Linked DNA regions of Homo sapiens: all the other regions are linked to region 3. The links come from fine-mapping of genetic effects on gene expression. A gene starts in region 3. Each other region holds a variant in brackets. All regions are shown on one strand. Distances are from middle to middle. Region 1 overlaps NDRG1 (N-myc downstream regulated 1). Region 2 overlaps CCN4 (cellular communication network factor 4). Region 3 holds the start of NDRG1 (N-myc downstream regulated 1). Region 4 holds the start of LOC105375771 (a long non-coding RNA gene).

Evidence for each region. PIP is the estimated chance that this variant, and not a neighbour inherited with it, causes the effect.
Region 1: its variant is fine-mapped to the expression of NDRG1 in whole blood (TOPMed, PIP above 0.99).
Region 2: its variant is fine-mapped to the expression of NDRG1 in whole blood (INTERVAL, PIP 0.97).
Region 4: its variant is fine-mapped to the expression of NDRG1 in lymphoblastoid cells (GEUVADIS, PIP 0.92).

The regions. Positions count from the first base shown.
Region 1 is chr8:133,233,846-133,241,879 of GRCh38, reverse strand. NDRG1 (N-myc downstream regulated 1) reads left to right here. Exons shown (of 16, transcript NM_006096.4): 16 at 2,761-4,705. The coding sequence ends at 3,002. Among named protein-coding and RNA genes, the nearest start is that of CCN4, 47 kb to the right of the region's middle. RefSeq lists an enhancer at 6,798-6,867. The variant G/A (reference allele first, on the strand shown) is at 3,693.
Region 2 is chr8:133,212,006-133,220,039 of GRCh38, reverse strand. CCN4 (cellular communication network factor 4) reads right to left here. Exons shown (of 5, transcript NM_003882.4): 2 at 6,897-7,176. It overlaps LOC102723635 (a long non-coding RNA gene), which reads left to right and starts at 7,053. Exons shown (of 3, transcript XR_428405.3): 1 at 7,053-7,141. RefSeq lists enhancers at 1,138-2,337, 7,065-8,034 and a silencer at 3,347-3,436. The variant G/A (reference allele first, on the strand shown) is at 4,787.
Region 3 is chr8:133,293,416-133,301,449 of GRCh38, reverse strand. It overlaps NDRG1 (N-myc downstream regulated 1), which reads left to right and starts at 4,198. Exons shown (of 16, transcript NM_006096.4): 1 at 4,198-4,316. RefSeq lists a silencer at 3,868-4,317 and an enhancer at 6,514-7,713.
Region 4 is chr8:133,371,858-133,379,891 of GRCh38, reverse strand. LOC105375771 (a long non-coding RNA gene) reads left to right here and starts at 2,224. Exons shown (of 3, transcript XR_001746096.2): 1 at 2,224-2,336. RefSeq lists an enhancer at 4,143-4,222. The variant C/A (reference allele first, on the strand shown) is at 4,136.

The DNA of each region.
Region 1 (8,034 bases), 60 kb after region 3:
AGGGCATGTGGCAGCCTGGAGGATCTAGCCTCTCATTTATCAGTGAGGCTCATTTTTCCTCCTTTGTTGAATAGAAGTTGTTTCACACCAGGGATTTTGGGGGGTTTAGATGAGGACTGTCCCTTTAAGCACCAAGACAATGACCAACAGTGAAACAATAACATTTTTAAAAATTTTGATCACAAGTTTTAAGAGACCACTAGCTACAGTGATGATGAAGATGGTGTCGATGATGATGAAAGATTACTAACACATTATTTTATCTCACTGAACCATCACAGTACTCCTTTGACATATTCTTAGCCCATCTTATCAGTGATGAAGCTGAGGCTTCGGGGTTGTAAGCAGGGAGCAGAGGGCGGATCTGTGGAAATTCTTTGAAGACTGTGAAGCTCTGTGGAAGTGGCTAACAAAGTTGCTTACATTCAAGGTGGAGCATGCCATAGTCAAGTCATGAGCTTTGGGAAGTGGAGGATACATTGGAAGCATCATTCAGGAACTCACTCGTTCTTATTTTGCAGTTATAGTTTGTTAGACACATACAGCCTTTTTTCCAGAAGTGCTGTCCCAGGACTAGGACAGACCCTGGCGAGTTGTAACTCGGCTGAACAGCAGCCACACTCAGTGCTGTGGGCCTGTCAGCCATGGTCCGGCCCTGACATGACTAGTGGCTCTTCTGACCCTACTGCTTGGAACTATAATTCGTGTGTCCTCCCTTACTAGGAAGTTATTGAACTTCTGATCCCTTTTATCATTTCCTTAAACTGTTTGCCCATGTATAGTAAGAGTATGCTTGGTAAGCTGACTGCAGTCCTAGCATTGGCCTTAGCCATGATTAGCTCTAGCAAGGCGAGGCTGGCAGGTTTGATTTCCATGCCTCAGGCTCAGGCAGGATCCACATCCCCAGGTGCCCTCTTCCAACAGAAGCTATCTGCTAGTGGGGCTCCTGCCTTTCTAGCCTGCTTTCCCCGACGGAAGTTGCAGGCAAAGGTTGTCATTGGAGACAGCCATGGAGACAGCCGCGGGGCAGTCCTGCTTTACCCTGCACGGTGTGAATTGTGGCTCCCATTTGTCTTGGTCCCGCCAGGGTTTGGATTTCTGCTTTGAGAGTGTGTTCTGGAGAGAAAGGAAGTGAATGCTAGACCTCATCTTTCTCCCCAAATCGGCTTCTATTACCAGAAAGCTGAAGCCTCCTGCAGGTCTTGGGGGGAAAATAACAGGAAGAGCTATGGTCTCAAAGGCATCAGCCAAAGAGAAGGAAAGGAACCGGTCACTGGCCTTCTGCACACCACGGGGTGCTGGCTTGATGAACCCTTTGCACACCTGGCATCAGTGCTCACTGTACGCTTCTCATCCTGCTCAGTAGACATCCCAGATTTGTGGGTGAGAAGTAGGGGCTCAGAGAAATATGTGAGCTGCGGATGTGGCATTGACCCCAATTCTTTCTGAATTCAAAACTAGCTCTTTAAGACAATTCAGCAAGGATTAATTCTGTTTGGGAGTGCCTGACATCAAAAGCCCCTCCCTGTGCCTATCAAGGAGATAACATAAGCCCTGCATGCTTGGTGTGGATCAACTGCCCCTGTTTCTGATGTCTGACTCAGTGTGGCCTCCTAGCCATGATGCTTCAGTTGGGTGGAGTACTAGTTTCCTAAAGCTGCCGTAACAAATCTCCACAAACTGGGTGGCTGAAAACAATAGAAATCCATTCTCTCAAAGTTCAGGAGGCCTAAAGTCCAAAATCAAGGTGTGGGCAGGGCCTTGCTCCCTCCAACGCTGCTGTGGAAGAACCTTCCATGCCTCTTCCTGGCTTCTGGTGGCCCCAGCAATCCTTGGCTTTATGTGGCTTGTGGCTGCATCACTCCAATCTCAGCCTCTGTCTTTGCGTGGACTTCTCCCCTGCATATCCCTGTGTGCTGTTTCTATAAGGACATCACAGTCATTGGGTTTAGGGTTCCCTCTCAACCCAGGATGATTTCATCTCAAGATCCTTAACTAATTACATATGCAAAGACCCTATTTCCAAATAAGGTTCCCTTCTGAAGTTTCAGGTAGGTGTGAATCTTCCGGGACACTGTCCCACCCGGTACAGGTGGGCAGGATTGTTCCTCCTCATTCCACCCCATCAGCACGTGCTACCCCATCAGCATGTGCCACTTGCACGTGCCATGTGCAAGAGCATTTGAGGTCTCAGAGAAGATCCCAAAGAATAGACAGCGCCCTTGTTAGCACCTGGGCTGACAGGCTTCTTTGGGAGAGATGACAACGAATAGCCATGCCGGGAACTTGCCGTGTGGCCCCTCTCCCTTTCCCCACCTGTGATGTGCAGGGCCACTGACCCCAGGTGTCCTCCCTGCTCCAGTGATCATGGACAGCATGGGGTCATGGGCGTACACACAGGTGCTGATACCAGGGGTCAGTATTTAACATACTTGCTTTACAGATGGGAACAGGGAGGCTCAGGGGGACACTCTCAAAATTACACAGCTTTTAACAGGTGGCAGAATTGGGGTTCAGACCCAGATCTGGGTTCAAGTCACTCATGGTGTGATTGCGGCAGTTCCTTCCCGCATCTGGGCCTTGCCATCTCTCTCTCCGAGTGGACATGGAGAGGACGGGGGCCCAGCAGCTGGATGGCTGCAGGGATCAAGTCTTCTCTGGGGCTGGCACGTAGAAGAGCATGTGGCTGGTGGACGGGCATGCCTGGCTCCTCACCTGGCAGTCTCCTGCCCTCTAACCGGCTGTCTCTTGTTCCCCTAGTGCCCTCGGCTAGCATGACCCGCCTGATGCGGTCCCGCACAGCCTCTGGTTCCAGCGTCACTTCTCTGGATGGCACCCGCAGCCGCTCCCACACCAGCGAGGGCACCCGAAGCCGCTCCCACACCAGCGAGGGCACCCGCAGCCGCTCGCACACCAGCGAGGGGGCCCACCTGGACATCACCCCCAACTCGGGTGCTGCTGGGAACAGCGCCGGGCCCAAGTCCATGGAGGTCTCCTGCTAGGCGGCCTGCCCAGCTGCCGCCCCCGGACTCTGATCTCTGTAGTGGCCCCCTCCTCCCCGGCCCCTTTTCGCCCCCTGCCTGCCATACTGCGCCTAACTCGGTATTAATCCAAAGCTTATTTTGTAAGAGTGAGCTCTGGTGGAGACAAATGAGGTCTATTACGTGGGTGCCCTCTCCAAAGGCGGGGTGGCGGTGGACCAAAGGAAGGAAGCAAGCATCTCCGCATCGCATCCTCTTCCATTAACCAGTGGCCGGTTGCCACTCTCCTCCCCTCCCTCAGAGACACCAAACTGCCAAAAACAAGACGCGTAGCAGCACACACTTCACAAAGCCAAGCCTAGGCCGCCCTGAGCATCCTGGTTCAAACGGGTGCCTGGTCAGAAGGCCAGCCGCCCACTTCCCGTTTCCTCTTTAACTGAGGAGAAGCTGATCCAGTTTCCGGAAACAAAATCCTTTTCTCATTTGGGGAGGGGGGTAATAGTGACATGCAGGCACCTCTTTTAAACAGGCAAAACAGGAAGGGGGAAAAGGTGGGATTCATGTCGAGGCTAGAGGCATTTGGAACAACAAATCTACGTAGTTAACTTGAAGAAACCGATTTTTAAAGTTGGTGCATCTAGAAAGCTTTGAATGCAGAAGCAAACAAGCTTGATTTTTCTAGCATCCTCTTAATGTGCAGCAAAAGCAGGC[G/A]ACAAAATCTCCTGGCTTTACAGACAAAAATATTTCAGCAAACGTTGGGCATCATGGTTTTTGAAGGCTTTAGTTCTGCTTTCTGCCTCTCCTCCACAGCCCCAACCTCCCACCCCTGATACATGAGCCAGTGATTATTCTTGTTCAGGGAGAAGATCATTTAGATTTGTTTTGCATTCCTTAGAATGGAGGGCAACATTCCACAGCTGCCCTGGCTGTGATGAGTGTCCTTGCAGGGGCCGGAGTAGGAGCACTGGGGTGGGGGTGGAATTGGGGTTACTCGATGTAAGGGATTCCTTGTTGTTGTGTTGAGATCCAGTGCAGTTGTGATTTCTGTGGATCCCAGCTTGGTTCCAGGAATTTTGTGTGATTGGCTTAAATCCAGTTTTCAATCTTCGACAGCTGGGCTGGAACGTGAACTCAGTAGCTGAACCTGTCTGACCCGGTCACGTTCTTGGATCCTCAGAACTCTTTGCTCTTGTCGGGGTGGGGGTGGGAACTCACGTGGGGAGCGGTGGCTGAGAAAATGTAAGGATTCTGGAATACATATTCCATGGGACTTTCCTTCCCTCTCCTGCTTCCTCTTTTCCTGCTCCCTAACCTTTCGCCGAATGGGGCAGCACCACTGACGTTTCTGGGCGGCCAGTGCGGCTGCCAGGTTCCTGTACTACTGCCTTGTACTTTTCATTTTGGCTCACCGTGGATTTTCTCATAGGAAGTTTGGTCAGAGTGAATTGAATATTGTAAGTCAGCCACTGGGACCCGAGGATTTCTGGGACCCCGCAGTTGGGAGGAGGAAGTAGTCCAGCCTTCCAGGTGGCGTGAGAGGCAATGACTCGTTACCTGCCGCCCATCACCTTGGAGGCCTTCCCTGGCCTTGAGTAGAAAAGTCGGGGATCGGGGCAAGAGAGGCTGAGTACGGATGGGAAACTATTGTGCACAAGTCTTTCCAGAGGAGTTTCTTAATGAGATATTTGTATTTATTTCCAGACCAATAAATTTGTAACTTTGCAGCGGCTTGTGTCTTTTTTCTGTCCCTGAGAGATTGTGTGTGTGAAACATTGCAGTGCAGGGATGGCTGTTTCACTGGGGGGTTGCCCGTCCTTGACACCTAGGGGACCCCAGCCCCTCATCTCTGGAATTCTTTCCTCGGAGCATCACGTCCAGCAGAAATTTAAGTCAGCTCATATGTTAATTCTAATTTCCCAGTGGCCACATTTTCAAAAGTGGAAAGAAACAGATGAAATTAATTTTAATAATACATTTCATTTATCTCAAGACGTCTAAAATATTACCACTTCTATAAAAACTATTGACCAGGTATTTTGCATTCTTTTTTCATTCTAGGAACTCTAGTGTGTTTCACACTCGCAATGCATTCAGACCAGCTGCATTTCAATTGCCCAGTAGCTTGGGCAGCACAATGATGAGGATAAAAAACTTTCCAACCTATAATTCGAGGAAAACAGCTTTTTTATTTTTAATATTTATTTTTATTTTTTGAAACGTAGTCTCACTTTGTCACCCAGGCTCAAGTGCAGTGGCACAATCTTCGCTAATTGCAACCTCCGCCTCCCAGGTTCAAGCAGTTCTCGTGCCTTAGCCTGCTGAGTAGCTGGGATTACAGGCATGCGCCACCATGCCCAGATAATTTATTTTTATTTTTATTTTTAGTAGAGATGGGGTTTTTGCCATGGCCAGGCTGGTCTCGAACTCCTGACCTCAAGTGATCCGTCCACCTAGGCCTCCCAGAGTGCTGGGATTACAGGCATGAGTCACCGTACCCAGGCTACATTTTGTTTGGATTACAAACAAATGTATGTGGAAAGATCATTCCTTTTCTCATGCCCAGTGACAACCATTGTAATGCTTGTTTTCTACTCTACATTAAAAAAAAGAGATTTTAGTGTAACCTCTTATTTAAACTAAGATTAGTTTAAAATATACAGACAGTTGCAAACAATACAGAGAGTTGCCATATAGCCTGTACTTAGTGACCCCTGTCACTAATATCTGACGTTACTGCATACTTGTCACAACCGGGAGATCAGTTGGACGTTGCTGTTAACTAAGCCCTGGACCATATTGAGAATTCACTGGGGTTCCCCTAATGTCCTCTCTCTGTCCAGGATCCCATCTGGGACACCCCATTACATTTTGTCATCATGTCTCAGCTTCCTCTGGTTTGTAACAGTTTCTCAGATTTTATTTTATTTATTTATTTATTTATTTATTTTTACTTGAGATGGAGTCTTGCTCTGTCGCCCAGGCCGGAGTGCAGTGGTGTGATCTCGGCTCACTGCAACCTCTGCCTCCCAGGTTCAAGCAATTCTCCTACCTCACCCTCCCAAGTAACTGGGATTACAGGCGCAGGCTGCCACGCCCAGCTAATTTTTTTGTATTTTAGTAGAGACGGGTTTTCACTGTGTTGTCCAGGCTGGTCTCCAACTTCTGAGCTCAGGTAATCCACCCGCCTTGGCCTCCCAAAGTGCTTGGATTACAGGTGTGAGCCACCGCGACCGGCCAGATTTTCCCTTTTCTTCAACAGCGTTGAGAAGCACTAGTCAGACATTCTGTCACAAGTCTCCCCACTGAGGTTTGTAAGTAGTTTTTCTCACAGTACAACTTGGGGCTGTGGGTTTTTCGGGGAAACCCACAGAGGTGATTTGTCCTGCTTCTCACATCATATCCAGGCCACACGCTATCACTGTGGTTTATCACTGATGGGATTAATGGTGATGGCGTGGCTGGGGTAGTGTTTGCCAGATTTCTCTATCGTCAGGTTACCCTTTCCACTTTTCCATATTCATTCTTTGGAAGTGTGAACCCCCAAAATTTGAGACAGGTCTCTGTTAATTTAGAAAGTTTATTTTGCCAAGGCTGAGGACAGGCGCCTGTGACAGCCTCAGGAGGTCCTGACGACCTGTGCCCAAGGTGATCGGGGCACAGTTTGGTTGTATACATTTTAGGGAGACATGAGACCGCAATCCATACATGTAAGAACCATACAGCCGGGTGCGGTGGCTCACGCCTGTAATCCCAGCACTTTGGGAGGCCGAGGCAGGTGGATCACGAGGTCAGGAGGGAGGGAGGAGCATGTTGGCTTGTGATTATTCAACAAACATAAGAAGTGCCTTTCCTACTTTGTGTCCTGTGTGAGTCGGGAACTAAGATAAAGCGGGTGGTGAAGGAACTGGCGAGGAAGCATCACAGCAGGGGGGCTGTGCCAGCTTTGAGGAGTCAGTGTGGCACAGAGACTTGCTGTGGTCTGGCTTCCTCGAGGAAGGAACTGTTGCAGGTGTTCACATGTATCAGTGCTATTTAGAGCTACATGCCCAAAGGCTGTTTGGCCAGCTGGGGATCTGATTCTGGTCTCCTAGCTGCTTGTTTTGGTTTCAAATCTCCTGACTCTTGGGTTTCAGCAGCATCTGGGAGGCCAAATGCGTGCTGAGATTAGCATGTGCAGGGTCTGTCCTTGGCCCTTTCCATAGTTTCCCTAAGAGAGTCATTAGGTTGACCCCTAGATCTGGCCTAAATCCATCGGCTTACGTATTTATATTGGGCTTCACAGGCTGCATGGAAACCCTTCGCTAGCGTCCCACATGGAATCCAAGAGCAGAAGGTGAGGCTTGGCCTTATGGGGTGGGAGACAGGACTGGGGAGGAGTTAGCCTCCTCCTTTCTAAGATCTGATTTTTGTGTAACTCTGAAGCATAAAATGGTGGCCCTAACCCAAGGGCTACCTGACCTTTTGGTTCTTGAACCCCAAACTAATCAGGTGTTTCTGTCTCTTAAGGGGAAGAATCTCATCGGTCCAGCTCTACTCAGGTGCCACTCCCTGTCTAATCAACTGTGACTGGGCTCATGTTACTCCTGCCCCCTTCCCCCCACATACATGCTGCAGGTGTCTGAGTAATTGATGTAGTTGTGGTGGTGAATTGAGTGTATCTGTTGCATGATTGAGCCCATTGACAGCCAAGCTCACTGTGGCAGAACATGCCCTTTCTCATCCCTGCTTTGAGAAGTGTCTGCTGAATGCCCAGCCTGCCCCACGAGGCAGGCGCCACCCTGCAGAGATGGGACATCTAGCATTTGTAACACATGTCACTGTGGGTGTCCTTTCTCTCGCAAACTAGGGATTTTTTCTTCTTCTTCTTCTTTTTGTTTTTTTTTTTTTAGATGGAGTCTTGCTCTGTCACCCAGGCTGGAGTGTAGTGGCGTGATCTCGGCTCCCCACAACGTCTGCTTCCCGGATTCAAGCGATTCTCCTACCTTAGCCTCCCAAGTAGCTGGGACTACAGGCGTGCCACCATGCCTGGCTAACTTTTTGTATTTTTAGTAGA
Region 2 (8,034 bases), 81 kb after region 3:
GTGTCTGGGAGAAAAGTGGAGCAGGGAGGGGGAGTTGGGCGGGGGGAGACAGTTGCAAATTTATTAATAACCCTTTCCCTGTTTAGAAAAAAATGTTCAGCTAGCTGCCAGAGCTCATTTAATTTTACATAAACACACTTTTTGAGGTTAAAGCAAATCTGACTGATTTTCCATGTAAAAATAAAATATAAAAACTGTTTCTTGGAGTTCTTTCTAAACAGAACTAACATCAGAATTGTCTGAATCATCAGAATAATCTATTTCAGAAAAATCAGATTCATCAAGTGAATCCCAGCCAACTGTTGAAGAACAATTATGCATAGGAATGCTGGGTTTTCTAGGATTTGACATTTTCAGTGATCGAGAATTACTATATTTTGTAAATGGAAATACCACTCCTAAAAAAACACAATGCTGTAAATAGAATGATATCTTTTGTTTTTCAAAGTTGGTATTCTAGAATGATGTGAATAGAGTAACAAAAGTGAGATATTTTGTGGCAAAATTATTTTGGGGTAAATGCTGCAGCCTCTAGTGCTGCTGGTGAGTATTCTCAGCGCAACTGGGAATAGGGTTAAATCAGGTGGATGGGGAAGGCCTCACTGGGTGATGACGCTCAGCAAAGCCTGAAGGAGGTGAGGAAGGAAGCCCGCCCAGGGGTTGGGGGAGGAGCTTTCCAGGTAGGGAGGGGCCCACTTAAGTAAAAAGACCACAGGTGGGAGCAAGCCTGGGCTGTGGGAGAGGTCTGAGGAGGGGAGACAAGAAGGAAAAGGGAAGGAGAGGAGGTCCGAGAAGGCTTCCTTGTAGGCTCAGAGGAAGTGCAAAGCTGTTAGAGCCTAGCACATAGTAGGTGCTCAGTAAGCAACTGCTGAATGAATGATGAAAAGTATGCTTTGCAAGAACACTCATGGTGCTGAGTTGAGGACATGAGAACACTCACGGTGCTGAGTCAGAGGGCAAAGGTAGCATGGGGGACCACCCTGAGACCCAGGTGGGAGAGAGCGGTCTGAAGCCAGAAAGAGAAGAGCTCGGCTTCCAGACAGATTTGGAAGGAGAGCTGCCAGGACTTACTGACAGAGGGGCTGTGCGGGGGAAAGGAGAGGAGTCGAGAAGGAGGAAGATGCTCTGTCCTCTTTGGACAAGCAGGGTTTGGGTTGGGTGGACTCAAGTGTTCTCCATTATGCGTGAGATGGCTGGTTGACAACCAAGTGGCCATGTGGAGTTAGTTAAGCCAGTTTGGAGTCAGGGAGAGTTGGGGACTTCTGGACCAGATATCACCCTTGATACCATGCTCTCTCTGGAGGACAGCTTCTGGAAATGCAGGTAAAGAGCCCCGGACATCATGAGTGGCCACCCAAGGAGAAGCAGTTTGGAATCTGCAGTGGGCCAACAGTTCTGTCCTTCAGGGTTTGCCCGAAGGTGGCTGTTAATAATAGCAGTAATCCTAATGTCTAGCAGGCATGAAGGTTTTCGAAGTACTGTCTCTGTTATTGGATACTGGGTCTCCTCTGTATTGTGCATTGCATTACTTATTTTATTCTGTACAGAAACACTATCACATTATCATCTTTGTCTTTATATATAGCAAAACAAAGTCTCAGCAAGGTGAAGACACATAGCGTCCAAGGTGACCACAGCGGGAAGCAGAATCCCGGTTTGTGTGAACCTTGCTGCGGCTATTGTTTTTTTTGGGGTGCGGTTATCCGTGCAGGAGGTGCAGAAAGGAAAGATGCTAACATCAACTGACCCTCTGATCTAGTGCCAGGTATCATCTGATACATTATCTCATTCAGTTCTCCCAATGACTTCATGAAGAGTTTTATTTTTCTCCTTTGATGGACAGGAAAGCTCTCAGAGAGGTTAAATGATTCGTTTGTTCAAGGTCACGAAACTGTTGAATGATACAGCTGGGACTCAAACCCAGGAGACCTGACTCCACAGCCCATTTCCTGCCACCAGACACCAGTGAAGGAGGGGACAGAGGAAGGCAAAAAAAGCAGAGGAAGCGCTGGGTGAATCACTCATCTTTGCATTCTGAGTCACCCTGCCTCTGCCTGCACGCTGTCTCTCCAGGAAGAGTGTGTGTGTGTGTGTGTGTGTGTGGAGAAGGGAGTGGGCTAAGCCCGGAACTCTGTCCCTGCATGTGGAGACTTTGGAGGGAGAGGTCAGTGCTAGATGCCCGGAGTCCCCAGCACAGTGGCTTTCCCTACCAGCTGCACAGGGGAACCCCAGGGGAACCTGGGGAGCTTTTAAAAATTGTGATGCTCATGCCAGGCCTCAGAATATGGGGGTGAACCTGGGTGTCAGTATTCTTCTTTTGTTGATCTCCGTATTTTAAAAGTTCCCCAGGTGAATCCTGTTTGCAGCTAAGGTTGAAAACCAGTGCAACTAGAAGGCGCGCCAGTCTCTCTCCTTGGGGCTTTGGGTGGGGAAGTGAGATGCTGCTACTGGCTCTGACCAGCCTGCCCACCACAGGCTAGTGGGATGCATGACGGCTGCAGATGGTCCCTTCAGCTGACTCATTAAGTTTCTAACTAATCAAAGGCGAGATGGTGAAGACAGTTGGGTTTCCTTCACTACCTCCTATCTAATCTCAGATCTGCAAGTGCAGGTGTGATCGAGTTAGCTTTCCTCTTACTGAAGCACTTTCAGGAATTCAAGTCAACTTGCTCTGCCATCGGGGCCTTCCCTCCCTTCACACCTCCCATGGACTGTCAGCTCACGCTGTCAGCAGGGACAGTGGGCCATGCCTTGTTGTAGCTCTGTTTGTTTTTGCTGCCTCACTTATGTTTATTGTGTGAAGAATCAATGGAGGGATGGATGGATGGGAACTGGGGTGAGCTGTACTCTTTATTCAGCTCCTGCCATGTAGCAGGCACTTGACATTCTAACCACCCAGAGATATAAACTTTCTTTGTCACATTTTCCTTGAAGAAGAAACTGAGACTTAAAAGGCTAAGTAGTTCGCCTAAAGTCATAGTAATAGTGAGTGATGATGCTGGGATTCCAGCTGGGTTGTCTAGGTCCAAAGAGCATGCATGAATTTACTACTCCCTCACTCTTCAGTATGGGGGATCTAGGCCAGGAGCTAGACCTGCTCCCTCCTCTAAAGGTGGCCGTGAATAAGACTGAGGTAACTTTCCTTGCAAGGCAAGCCAAGAGCAGCCAATTACTTTTATTTTTATTTTTTGACATTTCCTTATTTATTTTGCAACAAGCATGTGAGGTTGGTTTTATGACACTCCTTAAGTGATGTGCACATGGTCACGTAGCTAGCAAGTGGCAGAGCCAGGATCTAAAACTCAAGTCTGTCAGCTTGTAAATATCATAATCCTTCCACCAAACCACACTGACCTCAGGCCTGACCCAGCTTCATTTAAACGTAGAGTAGTGTTTGTGCAACTGAAATAGCCAAATGATGTAACTCAGAGGTCACCCTCTGCCCACAGATGTATTTAGTTTGGCCCACAGAGTGGTTTTAAAAATATTTTTGAATGTATTGCCAATGTTTACAAATCATACACAAATCTATGTACCTGGATTCTCTTGAAAACTAAGCATGCTGAACAAGACCTAGCTTTTTTCTGCTTGGCCAGAGTGGCTGGGCCCAGTAGGGTCATCTCTGAAAGCCAGGGCTTGCACACACCAGATTGCCATTGTCCCCATCATACTCTGTTTGAGTTATATAAGCCAGGGTTGCAATGGCTCATTTTTATTACCTGCCTTGTTCTGGTCTAATTACATGCAAATCTTTAAGGACAGATTTAGCCTGTCCTAGGAACTGTCCATTTGCTTAGCTGACCATTTGTGGAAAGATTGTTTCTTAGAGGAACCGTTTGTTCTGTTTACCCTCTGGCCCAGAGGTGTATTCTTTTGCAGACCCCACACTCTCTTCTTTCCTGCATTAGGGTCTCATGAATTCAGACACTATGGTAGCACTTCCGGGAACATGTTCAATAGAGCACTAGTGAGTTGTGTTTGTGCATGTGTGGGCACATATGTGTGTGATGTGTATATGTATAACTGTGTGTTTGTGTGTGTGTGTGTGTGTGTGTAGTGTAATGGGTGGGTAAGGAACTATCTGACTGAAAAAATTTAGTATTAAATACATCTAAAAAATTTATTATGAAGCTTATGATACCTCTCTTTTGGAATTTGGCAATGGACATGAAAATTTGAAGCCTCTGAGAATTTCTATAGCTCCTGGTTAGCTTTATTTATCTCAATGCTTGTAAAACTTCATGACCAGGGAACCACTGGTAGGCGTAAAATCTATTACAATCTCCTTTAGCCTACAGTTTTTGTTTTTTTCAAATAAAAGGAAAGGAAGTACACAGAAGCCCATGGTGTTGGGAAGTTAAGTGGCTGTACTGGGTCAAGGCAGGACCTAAGATGCAGAGATAGGGGGTGAGGAGGACAGGGAAGGGGGTTTTCCAGGCCACCGGTGGGGAAGGCAGGCAGGACAGGCAGTTTCTGGGTTCACACAATCTTTGGATCCATGACAGAACATCTATAAATGAGTGGTGCCTGGCAGATGACAAGATCTCAATACAGCTTTAGAGATTAATGCAATGGTAGTGAAAAGAAGTATCTTTTTAATGACCTTGAAGAACAGTTTTTACTGGAAGAATAAATTATGAGACAAGCTCATATAACTGGAGGTGGTTCTAGTGTAAGAAGTCCAGGCCAGGTTTCCCTACCTGGGTTATGGGGAGGGAACAGATGACTGAGTATATTAGCAGCAATTCTTGAACTTTAGCATGCATGAGAATCACCTGGGAGTCTT[G/A]TTAAAGGACTAGATCCTCATTCCCACTTCCAGAGACTCTGATTCAACAAGTCTGGGGTGGGGCTCAAGAATAACATTTATAATCAACATATCAGATGATTCTGTGCAGCGGATGCTGCAAGTTCTCTTTGAACATACCATTTATGTGGCTGCTAATGAGTTTCAGTAAAAGAAGAAAAATTAGAAAGATGGGAGAAGTGGGATGGTTATTCACAGAAAGCCAAAGACACAAGGATTCGTGTGAAAGTTGAAGCATGAACCAATGATAAAAGAGAAGAAACTGTCATAAATTAACCATGTGGTTCAGATAAAATAAAATTGTCTGACTGCAAATGATGTACATAACCCTCATGGACAATCCACCTCAAAAAATATAATGGTTAGCTGAGGATGAGAGACTACGTTGTGTGTGACTATGTGACGGGGTGTATATGGAGTCATAGTTAAGGGGAAGGCTTGATTCAGCACTAAGGGAAGAAGGGAGTTTTTGGGTTTATGAGACTTTGTGGAAGTTTTCAGAAGTTAGGCTGCTGCATCATAATACCTAGGTAGCTCTCTTAATCTGATGAGTCATATATTTTGGGTAATGCTTACACAATTCAAGGGAATACAAGTCCGGACAGAAGCAGGGGGTCAGAAAGTTTCATAAAGGAGGTGTCTTGGAACAAAAAAGGATAGAATACCCGTGATGGAGCACTTGAAGACCAAAGAAAACAACAACTAACAACAACAACAACAACAACAACCACCTCCAAACAGGAGGATATCAGAATACACCAAGAATAAAGAAAAAGCAAAGGCCATTAGAAAGTCCAGGAAAAACAAAAGCATCATAAGGAAGTGAATTAAAGCCAGTTCCTGATCTCATACTGCAGTGAACAATATTTACCTGGTCATAATATTATAAGTACTGATGATTGTATAATCAAAAATTATGGCAATGTCATTTGGAAGGTAGGGGTTATATCAGGTGGTTATTGAGGAGCTAAATCATCAGCTATCTTAGAATATTAATATATTATCCAAAAATTGATATATCAAGGCAATTAATATATAGCAGAACACATACATTTTATAGTAGCAATTATATATATATAGTAGTTATATATAACTACTGTTATATAGTAGTTATATATAACTACTATATATACTATATATAGTTTATATAACTACTATATATAGTGTATATATAGTATGTATAACTACTATATATAGTGTATATATAGTATGTATAACTACTATATATAGTGTATATATAGTATATATAACTACTATATATAGTGTATATATAGTATATATAACTACTATATATAGTGTATATATAGTATATATAACTACTATATATAGTGTATAGTATATTTAACTACTATATATAGTGTATAGTATATTTAACTACTATATATAGTGTATATATAGTATATTTAACTACTATATATAGTGTATATGTAGTATATTTCCCCCTGTGAAAACTGTTCTTCAAGTTCATTAGAAAGATAATATTTATAGTGTATATATTATCTTTATATTATATTTCTATACTATATAGAATATATAGTATATTTCTATAATATACTATATTATATTTCAGAAGAAATAACTAGAAAATTTAAGTGACTGAAGTAACTGAGAAATGTAGGTAGCTGGTGGGAAGGGATGACTGCAGGCTGCTGATTTTCATTCTTTCAAGGCTACTGGATTTTTAAAACCATATTTTTTAATTTACAATATTACCAAAATATCTGGAGTTCTGCAGTATGCTGGTGTGTCCTAGTAGGCCATGGACATTTGTTAAAAGATCCTACCACTAAGAGAACAAAACCAGGCTTAGGTATTTCATGGCGTCTCCCTCTTCCCTGGGGACAGCCATGAATGTGCCTCCAGGACTGAGAATAAAGCAAGAAGCAAAGTTCTGGAGGCGAGAAGAGTGCAGGCATCCTTGCCTCCCCTTCCCAGGAAGGACCCAGCCTCTGGCCTCTGATCATGGGGTGTATCTCCTGCTGAACGGAAGCCTGGCCAGGTGAAAGGCTGTGGGGGTGCCAAGGGAGAGGGGTTTGGGGCCAGAGCTGGGGGTGCTCAGGGGCTGGTCAGAAGGTATGGAGGACTCACTTACGTGCACACACTCCTATTGCGTACCTCGGGCGGTCCCCGCTGTAGTCACAGTAGAGGCCCCGGTGGGGGTCACAGATGGCAGCCTCCGTGCAGTTGTCCCCAAGCTGCTGAGCGCACATCTTACAGCACTCACAGCCATCTGTGATGAGGCTGACCCCCAGCGGGCAGCGGGGTGGGGATGGCGGGCACTCACATGGCCACTTGCAGAATTGGGGGCGTGAGGAGGTGTCCTCCAGTGGAGCTGGGGTAAAGTCCATGGTCGTAGGGGCTGGAGAGAGGGCCTGCGGGGGGAGGGCAGAGGGAAAGGGGGGCTGCTGAGACAGGGGTTTCAACGCCCAAAGGGCCCTGCCATTGCATTCCTGTCCTCATGCTGTTCAAAAGGTTTTCATAAAATTATTTTTTCTATCACGCTTTTGATAGCCAAACATCTCCTTTATTCTCAGTAAAACAAATAGAACAGAGGAGCCCAACATGCAGCGAAGTTAAACCAATTGCCCGAATCCTTCCGCTGGTCAGCGGTGGGGCCCAAATTCCACCTCAGACCCTGCTCCTTTCCTTTCTTGAGTGATTGTCGCTGCAGCCCCGAGGTAAGGGAGGTGGCCTCACTTTACAGGGAGAAAGCCGAGGCCCTGAGCAGGTGGAAGCTGGCTGTGAGTCATGTGGCTGCGCGGGGCTCGGATCCCATGGCTCTTCTGTGACGACCTGCAGGGCCAGTTCCTTCACTCACCGAGAGTTCTTAAGGCCTCTCTGAGTCAGAGGACTCCTACTTAATACCGGTTTCGGCCCGCTGACCTATTATTATTTTTTTCCCCTCTGAGCATCCGGAAAGGGCTGGCGTGGTGCAGCGGCAGGTATTCAACTTTATAGCTCCTGGCAGCTACATGGGCCCCAGCCCTTGGGGAGTGAGTTGGCGCTTCCTTTGCCAGCACAAGCCCTACATGGAGGAGCCCTTTTATTTTGCTGTCAGGGCAATGAGACCCCCCACCCAACACATACACACTCCACTCTACCAACCCGCACTCCTCCCCAGCATCCCCATTCCCATCCCCCAGTCAACAGCTTCATCTTTATTTTGGCAAATATGATGGACACAAGAGGCCAGCTGGGAAGGGAAACCAAGGCCCTAAGAGCTGCCCAGG
Region 3 (8,034 bases):
CTACAAAGTAAAAGGAAGAGGAGATGAGGTGGGCCTTTGGGTACAGATGCTTGTTTTGGAAAGTTTAGGGAGGAAGGGGTGAGAGGAACTGGGCTGCAGTACAGGAATGGGGGACTTGGGAATCAGAGGGGATTGGTTAGGGTGGGTCATTGATTGCAGTGAATGTTTACTTGTTGATTGGGCTGCAGTACAGGAGTGGGGGGCTTGGAATTAAGAGGGGATTGGTTTAGGGTGGGTCATTGATTGCAGTGAATATTTACTTGTTGATTAGTTTGATCCAGAAGAAAGGGAGAGATGGATGCTGGAGGAGAGAGGGGGTCCCGAGGGAGCCCAGGACTGGAGGTGGGAAGACACTTTTACGGACACTTTTTCATTTTGACAGACAGAAAAGATGATGGTCTGCAGCAGTAGACCCATAAATTGTGATTGAAAGGTCTGATGGTTTCTCTCACTCGTTTCCTCCATGCACAGAGAGGTGGAGTAATTTGCCCCAGGTACTACAGCTCATAAGTGGTGAAGTTGGAGCTGGGGGCCACAGACCACCGGGTTCTTCTCCATGAATCCCTGCTGCATCTTGGTCTCTCCCAACCCCGAGTACCCATGAGTTTTAAGAAAGACAGTTGGGAACAGGTGATTCCTATGGTCATTTTTGGAACATTTGGTTAGAATATTCTAGTATAAAATCTAAGTTGTTGTTAAGTAGAAATTTCCAGTGGACATTAGTCCAGAAAATCCAATCTCATCCTGTGACGGATTTGCAGCGCGTGTGCATTTACTAAGCAAATCTGATTCTACTGCTGACCAGCGAGAAAGAGGAATAATGTAAACAGTCAGTGCAATTGCACCCACATTCAGCTCCGTGAGCTTCTGCCACCTCAGCTGGCTGCGGTGGGGGATGTGGAGGTGCATGCAGCTCCCAGGTCCCAGTGAGGGGCCTCTGTATAGGGTGGGCGTCCTCTATGCTTTATGTGCATCCAGGCCTGTACTAAAGACAGTCTTTCTCCTGCAGCGTGACACTTAGCTAAGAAAACTACTTCATCTGGTGCTCAGCGGAAGAAAACATCCTTTTCAACAGGGAAGGAAAATTGGCTGTGTTGGGCTGAGGGAGGGGAGTGTGGAATCCAAATGGTGTCTTCCTCAGGCCTTCTCCAAGGTGATGTGGACTCTGATTTTAGAATGCCATCACTTGGAAAATTGTGTTCCATTGCTCAAATTCTTGCCTCCCTTCTCTGCTCTTTTCTCTTCACTCCACTCTCCTTCCTCTGTCTTCTGACCTATTCAATGCTAATGGTCTTCCAGAAGGTTAGGCTTCCCACACAAGCCCAGCCTCCTGCCAGGCAACCTCCTCGGGGTTTCAAGCTGCAAATCTGGGCTGCTCTTCGCATTCTGTCCTGAGGACCTCCTCAAAGAGACAGGCAAGGGCCTCCCCTGGCAAAATGCCCTTCTAATTCCATGCACTAGTTCCATTTGTTACTGAAGAAGTGGGCCGCCTTCCCTGCGCCTTTGAACTTGACATTCCTTATCTTGACACTCCGCACTTTTGAACTTGACACTCTTGTATCTTTAGCAGGTAAAAAACCAAAGGTGCTCACTCAATAAATCGCCGCAATGGGGAGCCTATGGGAAAATGGGTATGTGTAAGCTGGCTAAAGGATAACAGGCACACAGGCTGCTTGATCTGGGAGGGTCTTTAGACAGCAGGATGGCTCCCAGAGATGCACTTTTGTTGTTGCTGTTGTTCATGATCATGTCCCCAGGGTCTAGAATGGTGCCTGGGCATAGTAGGTCCTTAATATAGTTAGGGAATGAATGAGTTCATCTCAACCACGCTGTATGGATGGAGAAACTGCGTCTTGGGGCTGTACCATGCTATGCACCTGTAGAAAATGTTTTTGCCTTTTCAGTCCTTTCCCAGTGGCGGAGTACAGGACCCAGCTCATAAGAGCAGCTCAATTCTGTCATTTGTGGAATGACAGAATAAATAAGTTTCAGGGCCTAGGGAGGCAAGGCTCCTGCCTTAGCCTCCCAAGTAGCTGGAACTACAGCTGCATGCCACTAAGCCCACCTGATTTTTTATTTTCTTGTAGAGATGATGTCTCATTATGTTGCTCAGACTTTTCTGGAACTCCTGGGCTCAAGCAATCCTCCCACCTCTGCCTCTGAAGTAGCTGGGACTACAGGTACTTGCCACCAGGCCTGGCTAGCTTTCATCTTTTTTGTAGAGATGGGACATCACTATGTTGTGAAGGCTGGTCTCAAACTCCTGGACTCAAGAGAGGCTTCTGCATTGGCCTCCCAAAGTGCTGGGATTACAGGTGTAAGCCACTCTACCTGGACACAACATTTTATTTGAAATAAGAAAAATTTTCCCTCACTGGGAATGCTGCAGTTGAACTAGTTCAAATCCATAAAGAATGGAAGACTGCCCAGTGGTCATTCATTCACTTATTAATTCTAGATGTTAAATTTTCTAGGGTGGGGGAATGTGCTCCTACATTCAAGGCATTCTTGAATGTAGCCAAACTTTGTAGTTTAGCCAAACTTCATAGCTAATAGCCAAACTTTGTAGTTTAGCCAAACTCTTCTAGCAGCAAAACCCATGACACTGGAACTCTGTTCTTCACACTGGTCATTTGTAATAGAATAACAGAGCTTTAGCACTAGATAGGTTCTGAAAGATCATTGAATCTAATCCTCTCCCTTTGCCAGTGAGAATTCTGAAGCCCAGATTTGTTGATTTGTGATCGATAGTGTCAAAGACAGGCCTGAAACACAGATGTCCTGGGTCCTAGAGGTGCTGTTTGCCCCTCTCCATATTTCTTTTGTTCCAGAAAACCCTTCTCCAAAACTGGCCCTAATAATCAGAGGGGAAAGCCATGGCCCCTGCCTTGGGGACAGCATGGGTTGGCACAGAAAAGAGGTTTACAATTCAGCAGGAAGTGTTGTGCGTGCGCGCGTGTGTGTCTGTGGAGGCGCAGGGAGGGTCACCTGAGCTTGCCCTGGGTCTGGTCCTGGGCTCAGTGGCAAATTCAACGCTGGGCAGGTGGCCTGAGGACAATGACGGTGCCAGCTGTGAGTCAGACTTCCTTTATTCATAAAATCATGTTCCTCCATGCAGTGCTTCTCAACCTGGCTGCACGTCAGGAGCCACCTGGGTAGCTTTGTAAAAACCCCAATGCCCAGTTGGTTTGCACCCCCTGAGATTCTGATTAAACTGTTCTGGAGTCCATCTCTCTCTTTTTATTATCTATCTATTTATTTATTTTTTAATTTGGCGGCTCCTCTGGGACTTCTCATATGCAGTAGGGGTTGAGAATTGCTGGTTTCTTTGGCCAGATGGGAACATGCAGGCCAATAGTTACGCACAAACAGAGCAGCAGAGCAGGACGGTGCTAAGGTTGGAAAGGGTGAGTCATGAAAGTTCAGGAAATCAGAATAGGAAGGGGTGAGAATCCTCTCATCTGGGCTTGTGGGGCAGGAGAGAAGAGCCCAGTGGGCAAGGTCCAGTGAGTGTGCTTAGAACTGGGAAGATGAGGGGAAGGGTAAGCGCTGGGCGGCGGTGGGCAAGATGGACGAGATTAAACGGGAGCGAGGATTTCAGCGAGAGCTTTGGCGACACGGAAGGCTGAGAATCGGAGGGAGCCTGTCGGGCGAAAGCGAAGGCGGCTGCTGGGCAGGCAGCCGAATCCGGCTGGAGAGCCGAGCTGGTGAGACCTACAGGAAGTGAAGGGAGTCGCTCAGGGCGTGGCGCAACGAGACTCTTAGAAGAAACTCTGAGGCAGAGATGGGGGGCCTCCGCCCATACGGAGACACAAGGAAGTCCACATGCACACGCACGAGCGCGCACATGAACACGCACAAGCACACAAACGCCTCCTCCGGGCAGGGCACACGCGCCCGCTGCACAGGCCGAGGCCCTGGACTCGGAGGGGACTGCAGAGCCGACCCACAACCCGGGCCCCGATGCCCCTCCCGGCCGCGCCCCTACGACTGCTTGCGCAACAGGCGGCGGCTCCAGTGGGCGCCCGCCGCGCGCTGCCGGAGCCCAGCCCAGCCCGGCGCGCCCGGGAGGAGGGAGCAGGGAGCGGGGAAGGGGTGTGTCCCGGCTGCGTGCTGGGACTGCGAGGGTCTGGGAGGGGCGAGGCGCGGGGGCGGGGCCGCGGCGCCTATAAAGTCGCCCTCCGCCCGGACGTAAACAAACCTCGCCTGGCTCCCAGCTGGTGCTGAAGCTCGTCAGTTCACCATCCGCCCTCGGCTTCCGCGGGGCGCTGGGCCGCCAGCCTCGGCACCGTCCTTTCCTTTCTCCCTCGCGTTAGGTAAGCCCGCGCCCTCTTCTCCCAGGCGCGACGCGGAGCAGAAAGGGGCCGCCCGTGCGGTGCCGCTGGAGCGCCAGGACCGCCCTTTGTAGCCCCGCGTACTCCAGGAGTAAGCGCCCCGGAGCTGCAAGTGCGCGGTCACCCCGGGGCGCGGGCGCGAGGGGGCTTTGGGTGCAGACACCGCTGAAGTGGGGGGTTCAATTACGGAAAGGGAGGAAAAAAAGACAGGGTCCCATTCATCTCCCCCCTAGCTGGGGATTGGGGTTCTGGAGGTCGGGAAGGGGGCGATGAGACGGTCCGAAAAAATACCAGGATAGCGTTTCCTGGCGTCGTCTCCGAATCCCAGCTGGCGCCGCTGGCAGGGGTGCGCGCTGGACGTGGGTGCAGAAGGGACTAGGTGAGTGTGTGTGTGTGTGTGTGTGTGTGTGTGTGTGTGTGTCTGTGTCTGGGAACGGAGAGATTGCGCGCGAGTGTGTAGATGAGGGGTTGGTAGAGGTGAGTGGCGCTGGCAAGGAGGCTGGAGAGGGGGGCGTGGGTGTGTCTGGCTTGCAGACTGGGTCGGGAACGGGTGTGGATCCGAGAGGCTGGTGGCGCTTCAGTCCCGTAGCACACACAGGGCGGTGTGCATGTGTGAGTGTAAGCGTGTGTGTGGGGGGAGGGTCCAGGGTGTGTCACAGTGCAACACGCGAGCCGGAGCAAGTGTCTGCGAGCGCCACTGGGCAGGGTGCGCCCCCGGAGGAACCCGGGATTGGCGCATCGGCGGCGTGGGAGAAGTGACCTGGGCGAGAGGGGTCTCGCGGACATTTGGCGGCCCCTTGAGCTGGCTGGAGCTAGGAGTGGCGTCATTTTCGCCTCCGCCCACCCTCCCCCGCTTTCCTCCCCTCCCCTGCCTCTGGTGCTGGCCGCTCCTGCCCTCCACGGGGGAAAACAGCTGGAATTACTTCGACGTTCCTGGGGGATCCGCCGCGGTCTCTGATTCAGCCTCGGGAGGAGATTTCGGGCTGGGCTTGGGGAATGCGGCTGGTTCTGGGGGAAACACGCTGTCACGCCTCTGTCAAATTAGTAGCTGGAGCTGGGATTTAGTGGGTCGGTTCCTTACCCACCCCTCCCCCATATCCCCCGCCTGTTGTCCCTGCTGTCCCTGGGGGTCCTGAACAGCACGCCTCTGTGGCTTGGAAGTGGGAGATGCCTGGCAGTGGGTGGGGGAGGCAGGGCCCTTGGTTATCTTATGCCCATCCAAGAACACCCCTTCCTCACGGACGCTGGGGGCACTTCAGTTTGTTTGGTTTCTTTAAGCTACTGGGAAATATCTAATATTCAGAAGTCAGCCAGTGGCCAGGCAGGAGGGCGGTAGACATCCTTATAATACCCATCAGCTGCACGGGACCTTCTCCTAAGCTGCCTCAAAAGAACATATCTAAATACAAACCCCCTGTTCTTGCTGCAGAAATGTAGTTTCAAGGCGAATTTTTCAGTCTAGACTCTTCCTGTTGAGAAATTCTGGCGTTCTTATTGAGTTTCACAAATGTGATTGAAATAAGCAAGGTACAGAGGGGGCAAACCCCAGCGCCTTTCTTGGAAGGGCTGCCTTCTGGTGGGGAAGACACACGGCTGGAGACGCAGACCGGTTCTGTGTGGTGTGTGTGGCGGCAGAGCCAGCCCCAGGCTGGGGTGGCACAGTGTCGGGGATGAAGGAAGGTGTAAGGGAGAGAGAGGGTTTTGGTGTGGATGGAAAACTGGGTGTTCCCCTGACCTGTGACTTCTTAGCTTTGTGGGACCGTGTCTCCCACTGCATCTGGGCAAGGAGGAGGATTTGCCTGCCCTGCCCTGTAACCTGGCCCCTGGCCCAGCGCCTGGCAGGTGGGAGGAGTTGAAATATGCACATGGGATGAAGTGGATGGCTCTGGGTCTTCTGCCCCATTCTCCTGTGAACCAGCAGGTTGAGTTTCGGGCGAGGTAATAGACTGTGCATGGGTGGAGGTGTTGGCTTTTGCTTTTGAGGGATCCTGGAGTGTCTGTTTGGGTCTCTTGTGAGGAAGTTCTTTTGGAGCAACAAAGTTTGATCATTTGGAATGGAATAAAAAACTCACACAGGACCTACCTAGTCCAACTTCTTTCCATTTTACAGATGGAAAATGAGGCACAGGGATGGGGAGGGATGTGCCCAGGCCGAACTGAGCTGGAGCTCAGCTTTGTGAGAGGCTCCTGGGTGGGACTGAAGGCAGTGGAAAGGGTTCCTGGCAGGATTTTGCCTGCCTGCTATGGAGGGGCGAAAGGAAATTGCATCTTCATTGAATTTCTGGTGAGGAAACTTTTGAGGCCAAAGGGGCAGAGCGGAATGATTTTTTTTAAGTGTAAATCAGGTGTTCTTGAGAGATTAGCAAAGCCAGCCTGAAGGGCAGGGGCTTAGAGGCTGCAGCCCCCTGAGTTGGCCTTTGACTGAATGGGGCTGCCCCCCCCCCATGACAGAAGACAGATCTCAACTGAGCTGAGGGCCCCCCTGGGTTACGTTGAAATCCGCTGGCCTGAACTTGCCTCCTCATGGACCTGAAAGAAAGATAGCATTGTGTTTTTCGGGTGGCCCAAAGCTGCAGTTCTTCCTTGGGACCCAACCCCAGAGAATCCCATTCCAGATGTGACTCAGAGGCCTTGTCCTGGGAGAGAAAGCGTGATGACTCAGCATCTGAGACTCAAGCAGGGTTCAGGTTTGACTCAGCCTGGAAGGAAGGCCAGGGAGGGACACGACATCTCTCTCCCTCCAGAGCAGCCACTGTCTCCCTCCATCTGCCTTCATCCTCGCAAGAACGTTGCCTGGATCGTATTGCTCCATTGAATGGATGAGGCAACTGAGGCCAGGAGAGTTTCAGGATTTGCCTGTTGCCATATGGCTCAGGTGGGAGAGCCAGACTTTGAACCCGGACAGTTGGACTTCAGAGCCTTTGTTTTTTTTCCATGACAACATGTTGGGGCGCCTGAAGAAATCAGGCTCAAATGAAAAGGCAGTCAGGAGCTCCATGCCTCAGTTTGCTTTTCTGTAAAATGAGAGTAACAGACATGATGCCATCAGAATGTGTAAATATTAATCTGTGTAACCTGAGAACAGCACTGAGCATGTGGAAAACAGCGTGTAGGTGTTTGCCGTCAGTAGCACCCGCAGAAGACATTCTCAAGGCATCTTCTTGGCAGGCAGAGTCTGGGACCCTTTGTCCTAAACCTACCCAAGGCTGTGAAAGTGCCTGCAAATGCTTGACCTAGGTATTGCTTTTTGCTAAGCTTATGTAGGTTGCATAATAGTGTCATGAAAATCTTGTCTGAAATGCACATTTCCAGGCCCGGTCTCCTGCGATTCTCTCTCCATCAGGGGATATGCTGTTGTTTCAAAGCTCCTTTGGCTGGGTTGGGAATGGGGTATCCTGCAGGCAGACAGAGTTGAGAACCTCTGCTCTGGAATGACAGGGGAGAGAAGAAGGAAGGTGTAGTCATACATGCCGCTGTACCTTCAGGCCACCCTGTGTCCACAGTGCCAGGGAATTAGTGAGTGCTCAGTAAATAGCTCTTGTTTGCTATAGTGCCTTGGAGGTTCAATGCATCACATCAGCTAACTGAGGTAGAAGACATTCTTTCCACCTCTCAGGTCAGAAAATTGAGGCTCAGGCTGGTGACTCTTCTGTCCAGAGTCCAGTGAGTGGGGTTCTGCCCAAGGTGAGCCTCCTGAGCC
Region 4 (8,034 bases), 78 kb before region 3:
AAAGGTGCCTGCTTTCCCTTCACTTTCTGCCATGATTGTTAAGTTTTCTGAGGCCTCCTAGCCACACTTCCTGGTAAGCCTGCAGAACTGTGAGTCAATTAAACCTCTTTCCTTTGTAATTACCCGGTCTCAGGTGGTATTCTATTTATTTATTTATTTGAGACAGAGTTTCACTCTGTTGCCCAGGTTAGAGTGCAGTGGCATGATCTCTGCTCACTGCAACCTCCGCCTCCCAGGTTCAAGCAATTCTGCCTCAGCCTCCCAATTAGCTGGGCTTACAGGTGCCTACCATCATGCTCAGCTAAATTTTTGTATTTTTAGTAGAGACGGGGGTTTCACTATGTTGGCCAGGCTGGTCTCAAACTCCTGACCTCAAGTGATCCACCTGCCTTGGCCTCCCAACGTGGTGGGATTACAGGTGTGAGCCACTGCGCCCAGCTTCAGGTGGTATTCTTTATAGTGTGAGAACAGACTAATTCACCAGCAACGAATGAGAGTTCCTTTTGCTCCACACATCCTCTCCAGAATTTGGTGTTGCCAGCCAGTGTTTTGGATTTTGGCCATTCTAATAGTGACATCTCATTAGACTTTAGTTTGCAAGTCTCTGATGACTTATGATGTTGAGCATTTTTTATATGCTTATTTGCCATCTGTGTGTCTCCTTTGGTGAGGTATCTGTTCAGGCCTTTTGCCCGTTAAAAAAAATTGTATTGTTTCTTTATTAAATTTTAAGAGTTCTTTGTATATTTTGGATAACAGTCCTTTATCAGACATGTCTTTCGTAAATATTTTCTCCCAGCCTGTGGCTTGTCTTCTCATTCTTGTGATGACAGGTGATTTTAAATTTCTTCTTCTTGATTATCTCATTTTAATAATTGTTTTGCAATACGTGTGCATCACTTGATTATTGATTTTTAATCTTTTTAAAAAGAATTTAAAAGTTGAGCTCAAAGCAGGAAAGGGAAGCTTTATATGTATGCCATTTAATAATATTTACACTAGCCCTGTGAGGCAAAAATATACCACTCTCATGTGTGTGTGTGTGTATATGTGTGGGCACATGTTCATGCATGCACAGGTGCAGAAAACCAGAGTCTAGAGAGGAAAAGTACCTGGCTCCAGGTCACACAGCTCGGAAGGGCCACCGGTAGATTTGAACGTGGCCCTGTCTGACTCTAGAACTTGTGGTACTTGTTTTACACAGAAGCGCACTCACAGAGGAGATATGGCTCTGCTGGCCCCTCTGTGGCACAAGCTGCCCCTTTTAGGACTCTGTGTCCACCACAATCAGCTTGGCATTGTCTTGCCTCTTGCATCTCATCACTTTCTTCTCAGCTCTAACTCCTAGAAATGATTCCGGATTCTTTGCAGTGACCAGCCCAGCTTCAAATCACTGATGACTGTCTCCAGGGCAAAAGGGGAAGCTCGGTGGGGTATGGGAGAAGCAGACAGGAATGGCCAGCACATAAAATAGGCCAGGAAGCCCCTCCCCTCCTTGCTCAGGGCAGCTCTCCCTGCTATTTCTGCCAACAGCCGGGCTAGCCCGGCCTGCAGCAGGCAAACCTGCTCATCACCTTGCTCATGGCCTTGAGCTGAGCTTAATGTGCCTCACCTGAGACTAGCCAGATACTGTGACTTAGCAGACAATGTTCTCGCCTGAAACCTCTCTAAAGCTCTAGCCCAGGGCTGGTCCCTAGCAGCCCCCGAATGCATGTCACATGCATGACACCCGGTGATTGGCTGGCCTCACAGATGCTTCCTCACCTCCTTCCATGGGTGCCACGTTATCACTGTTGCATCGTTGCTTTCTTGTTGCCACCCTTTCGTTCATTTATTGAACAGAAACGTATGGAGCACCTGCTATATGCCAGGCACAATTCTAGACTCCAAAGGTTCAATGGTGAACAAGAAAGTCCAAAACATTCCTTCTCTCATGGAACTTACTTTCCAATAGAAGAAGATAGACTTTAAGCAAAATAAATTTGTATCTTACATAAAGCTGCATATGAAACCCTGATCAGTGCCACAAAGGAAGAGAAATGGGAAAGAACAGGGCATGAGGTGTGTGGGAGGTTTGCAATTTTAAATAAGTAGTTCCTTTAAATAAGTATTTTTTTGTCCTGTTACCCAATAAAGCTACTTTTAAGCCTTCTTCAAAGTTAATCATACGTCAGCCTTTTACAAGCAGAATCACCTGACGCTTTTTATTTGTTTTCCCTTTAGGTTTTTGTCCCTCTCTTAAAGTGAATGGTCACAGAGCCATGAGCAGGTGGAAGATGCAGGTGGAGGCATCTTCCCTGTCACCGTTGGTATGTCTGGTTGAAACCTGCAACAAGGTATGTTTGGTGTTCTTGGTTGGGTAGGAGGCTGCAGTTGCAGCTTGGAGTTAAACAGGGGGCCTCAGGCCACCAAGGACAGAGCCATGTGGAAACCCTGTGCCCTGGAGCCTCCTGTCTGCAGTCTCTGTGTCCTCCTGCTGGGTCACCGGCCCTGGGCAGCAGCCTGCTGCACCATAGGGGGCTCCACCCACAGACCCCGCCTGTTCCTCACCATGCACCTTTGCCTCCAGCCACATTCTGCATGGGCCTTCTTGTTCCTCCACGTGGCAGTGCGGCTGCCGCCTGGGATTCCGGGCTGTGTCCCTTCCCTATCTGTGCTGGGACAGCATCCTTGCACAGCCTGACTTTGCAGCCAAGTCCTTTAACTAGTCATTCTGTTTTTTCCTTTCTGTGGCCAGTGCTTGGCTATTGAGCAGTCTCCCCCTGCGCCGCCTGTCCTGAACTCACCCCAGCTGTCCCTCCCCAGACCTCAGCAGAGCCCTCTCCTAAAGTCCCATGGTCTGAGCTTAACACCTCCCAGTGGCTTCCCAGTGCTCAGAGACTCAGGCGTCACCCAAGGTGCTCAGCGACAGGAGCATTGCTGACTCCACACGCCCCACACACCACTCAAAGGCCACTCACGTAATAACAAAGGTCGGAGTCCAGCTCCAGAACCTCAAATGCAAACCCCAGCTCTGCTGATTTCTAACCAGGCAGCAGTGGGCAAAGAATTCAGCTTGTCTGTGTCTCCTCATCTTAGAACTTTAACACTGGTGTCCTTTTCCCCTAGGGAAATGGATGGAATCATTGAGGTAATGCAGGCATAGCACTGAGAGGTGGACCTGCCATATAAGCGCTTGCAACTGTGACTAAAGCACAAAGTGGAAAGGGATTTGGCAGACAGTCAGGGTGGCCAGGTTCTCTGGCATTGCCACTTCCTGGCTGTGTGATCTTGGGCAAGTCTCTTGACCTCTCTGAACTTCACATTCTTCTGGAAAGTGGAGATGTGGGTCTTGGTGAGTTTTGAGAATCGAAAGAGCAGATGGAGGCTATAAACTGCTCTGCAAGTGCTAAAGCATGGTGCAAATGATGCTGTATGTCTTGAAATATATCAACTGTAGACAGTATTGATATTTTACATTTAAAATAAAATCAAATGAGATATTCAGTTTCTTTGTCACATGTCAAGTGCCCCATAGCCGCATGTGGCCTGTGACCATCACGTTGAAAGAGCACACCCAGCACCTACTCATTCATTCACCACACATTCCTAGGGCAGGGAGTCTGTCCCAGTGTCAGCCACAGTGCCCTGGGGACACAGAGAGCCACCGTTCTGTCCTAGGACAACATTATGCTGGTCCCTTCCCTCCCCCACCAGTCACCTCCCTTCCCTGTGCCTCAGTCTTCCCTCCCACTCTGTAAAATGCGCAAAAGGGGGTAGAGTTTGTCAATGATCCCACTCAGCATGGCTCATGAAAGAGAAATCACACAGTCTTCAGGGTTAGGCTGAGCTAGGTTTGAATCTCGGTTCCTTGCATAAGTCACAAACTGTCTCTGAGTCTCAGTTTCCCCACTTGGCCTGGCAGGATTGCAGAGAGGATTGCAGGAGGTAGCTTTTGTGGCACCATCAGCACAGCAAACTACCAGTCCTGCGTTTAATGCCTGTAGAGCGAGGTGAGGGTTGAATGGAGGCAGAAGGAACATGTGAGGTCCCCACAAAGAAGAAGAGAGAGATTGGGAGGGAGAGGCAGGGGCGGCTCTGTTGCTGCAGGCTGAGCTGCTGCAGGGGTGCACGTGGCGGGTGGCACGTTCCCTCC[C/A]CCCACTGGGCTCTGCATCTGGCAAGAGGTGGGGCACAGCTCGGACAGCTTAGCTCACGTGTTGCTGAGTCACCTCTGGGCCTTGAGGGATTCCTGGGAGGGGCGTGAGGTGCTGCACGTCTCCATGTGGGAGGAAGATGGGAGGTGGCTTCCAGCCTCAGCCCTCCCTTGCCTTCAGCCTTCCCACTGCCCTCCCCTTCTCCAGCCTGGAACAGTGGCCTTGGGATTGTGCCAGGCAGTGACAAGCACCCATGGCCTGGGCAAGCCCCGACGGGGAAAAGACCCTGGTTTCCCAGGTCCCAGCTAAGGGCCCACTTGGGGTTTAGGAGTTGAACCCAGGCCCTGCCCCAGCCCTCCTGGAGCCCAGCTCAGTGGAGGAGACAGGCCTATAATTCTACCCCAAGGTGCATGGATGTGAGGTGCCAGGCCCTGCCACCAGCAACGGTAACCCTGGGTGGGACTCTTTGCTCTCTGAGCCACAGCTTGCAGGTCTGAAAAATGGATACGAACACCTGCTCTGCCCAGTCTCTTCTGGACCTGAGGGCATGTGCTGTGCAGATGGCAGGGCCTCCGTGAAGTCAGAAGCTGAGGCTGGCTCAGAGGAGGCTGACTGCAGCGGGCCAGCCTGGAGCAGGGAGGGCACCTGATTCTCGCTGGGGAGAAGCCTGGCTTTGCCATGCAGAGGATTTGGATGATGGAGGACTTGGGACCTCATTTAATACCCCCGGCTTAGTTTCCTTCTCCCTCTTAAGGCAAAGTGTGTGCTGAAGGTGAGGAGAGGATGGCTGTGAGCAGCAGGGGCTTCCTGGGTGCCCAGGTGGCTTCCCCCTTACATGGCAGGTGCCTGGGTAATCTGTGGAGTCATATGGTTTCTCATCTGGCTACTGCGTGTCTCCTGTCTAGACTGTCAGCTGCCTGAGGGCAGGGCCCTTGAGGCCCCGTTTGCAGCTATACCCCCAATTCCTGAGCCCTCAGGAAATGCTTGTTGAATGAATAAAAGGGAGTGGATAGCAAAAGGCATGCTGAGAGTAGGTACACCCTCACCTCGTTGCCCCAGGAGGTCTTGTGTTTCCATAGGGGCAGTAACAAGGGTTGCTGTGAGACCCCAGCTGGGCACCAGATCCTGAGAAGGTGAGTGAGAGCAGAAGGTGGGTGAGAGCAGAAGGAGAGTGAGAGCGGAAGGTGAGTGAGAGCAGAAGGTGGGTGAGAGCAGAAGGAGAGTGAGAGCGGAAGGTGGGTGAGAGCAGACGGTGAGTGAGAGCAGGTGAGTGAGCGCAGAGGTGAGTGAGGGATCGGAAGTTTCTAGCAGCCTAAAAGCACTGAAAAAAAGAAGAGACTCATGTTTTCTCCCCAGGAGGCCCCAAGGAGTAACTGTGACATCGGGCGGCAGGGGTGGGGGGGGCAGTGCCGGTGAAGGACCCACCCCTGCCTGCAGAGCAGGACACTGGGCCAGCTCAAAGCAGTCAGAGCTGAGGAAGGGCATGGCAGACAGGCTTGGGTCTGGCTACATGACTCTGCCTGTGCTCTGCACCTCACCACGTGGGCCTCAGTTTCCTCCTCTGTCAAATGAGTGAAGATTGAGATGAATGAATATTATTATGGCACAGAGAAGACAGCTAATTGGGTTCAAATGGCAGAGTTTTGCTGCCATGAATTATCCCTTCAATAACTGCTGTTTAATTGAGGAATGACTCACCCAGAGAGAAAAATGCACAGAGTGTGTACATCTTAAGTGGATGTACATCTTAAGAGTGAGAATTTTTTACATATGTATACATCATGAAGCAACCACTGAAGTCAAGACAGAGAACATTCCCCGGCTTCGCAGACTCCTGGTGCCCCTTCCTGGTCAATATCTAGCCCTTCTCTGAGAAGCAACCCCAGCCTTTCTTTCCATGAGCTTGTTTTGCCTGATCTTGAACTTCCTACGAAAGGAACCCCACAATGCCTCTGTATCTTTGTGACTTCTGCCTTCTTTTTCGCCAGCCCATCTCCTACCCCCCCTTTCTTTGGTAAAGGGGCTTTGTTTGCCTTTGGTTCCTGTCCCTCCTTCACACTCAGTCCATCTAGTTTGGGGGACTCTCTCTGTCCCCCAGCCCCACCTCCAGAGATGCACACGTGAGCCAGCCTGGTTCATGAGCTTCCCACAGCTGCTGTAACAAATTGCCACAAAATTAGCAGCTTACAATACCACCAGTGTATTTTTTCTTTCTTTCTTTTTTTTTTTTTTGAAATGAGTCTTGCTCTGTAACCCAGGCTGAAGTGCAGTGGTGCCATCCCGGCTCACTGCAACCTCCGCCTCCCAGGTTCAAGCGATTCTCCTGCCTCAGCCTCCTGAGTAGCTGGGATTACAGGTGCGCCAACACTGTATTTTCTTAGAGCTCCAGACATCAGAAGTTTCAAATGGGTTTGGCTGGATCAAGAGGTGTCAGCAAGGCCAAACTCCCTCTTGGAAGCTCTAGGGGAGAATCATTTCTTTGACCTTCCCAGCTTCTAGAGGCTGCTTGCATTCCTTGGTAAAGCCGTTTCCTCCATCTTCAAACCATGGCTCAAACTATGCTTCCAAGGCCACCTCTTCTCTCTCAACTTCCCCTGATAAGGACTATTGTGATTATACCAGGGCCACCCAGACAAATGGGGAGAACGTCTCCATCTCAGGATCCTTAATTTAAATCTATCTGTAAAGCCTCTTTTGCCATAGAAGGTAACACATTCCCAGGTTTCAGGGATTAGCATGTGGACATAGGAGAAGGGGATGATGGTGCGTATACATTATTTAGCCAACGAGTGCATCTGGCCATGGCGAACATTCCTTTCCCTGGTCATTGTGACTGACTCTAATTGGACCATGACCCAAACCAGTCCAGTGAGAGTTGCCCAGAGGGCTTTTGCTGAAACTCTATAGGAAATGGTAACTGGGTAGGATACAAGCCTGAAGCTGCTGCGAGACCGAAACTTAATCATTGCTTGGGAAGTTTGCCTGACATTGAAGACAACATAAAGGAGAGCAGAGCCATGGCACATGGACATGGATACATGCATGAGCACACGTGTGCACACACAGGCACACACATGCACGCACACACATGCACACACACACGTACACACACACACACACACACACACATGCTATTCTGATGACAATGTCTAAATATCTGAATCCAGCCCTGCCTGAAGCTCGCAGCCCCTTCAGAATTTTGGGCCACATGAGCCAGAGTATTTTCCTTGTGTCTTAAGTCCATTTGAGTTGAGTTTCTGACACTTGGAATAGAAAGACACCTTAGAAACACATACCTATGATTCTGTTTCCCCAAAGACTCTGGAATTCAAAATGGGAACTTCTCAGACTGTGGCACTAGCCACATCATCTCTGATGCTCAGAACTTTCTGCCATGCAGTTTTAGGCTCCCTGGTTTATGGATTTCTCCCCCGTACTCCCCATTGCCAGAGCTCCTTCCTGCTCTACAGGTCACAGGATCACCCAACAAATCCCATCAGTTACACAAGTCCCGGCAAGAGGAACTGCACGTCCTGGGCTGCATTCACACATCTCTGAGCTGTCACCATGCTGCTCACAGGAAAAGAGCTACCATTTTCCTAGCTCCCTCCCACCTTGTACCCCAAACTCTGCTTCCATCATTTCATTTAACCCTGATAAGTTCCCTGTGGCTTGGGAATTACTAGTCCTGTTTCATGGTGGAAGAAATAGAGGCTCAAAAGGTCCTAGTAGCCTGCTCACTGTCACACAGCCAGCTGGTGCCAAAGCCAGCCTCAGAATCTGGGCCCACAGCTAGGCTGCCCATCACAGTGTGGTACCAGACCCTAGGCAGGTGCAGGTTTCCACCAGCAAAGAGCCTACTGGAAACAGCTTCTCCATGGCCGACTTGCATCAGCCACAC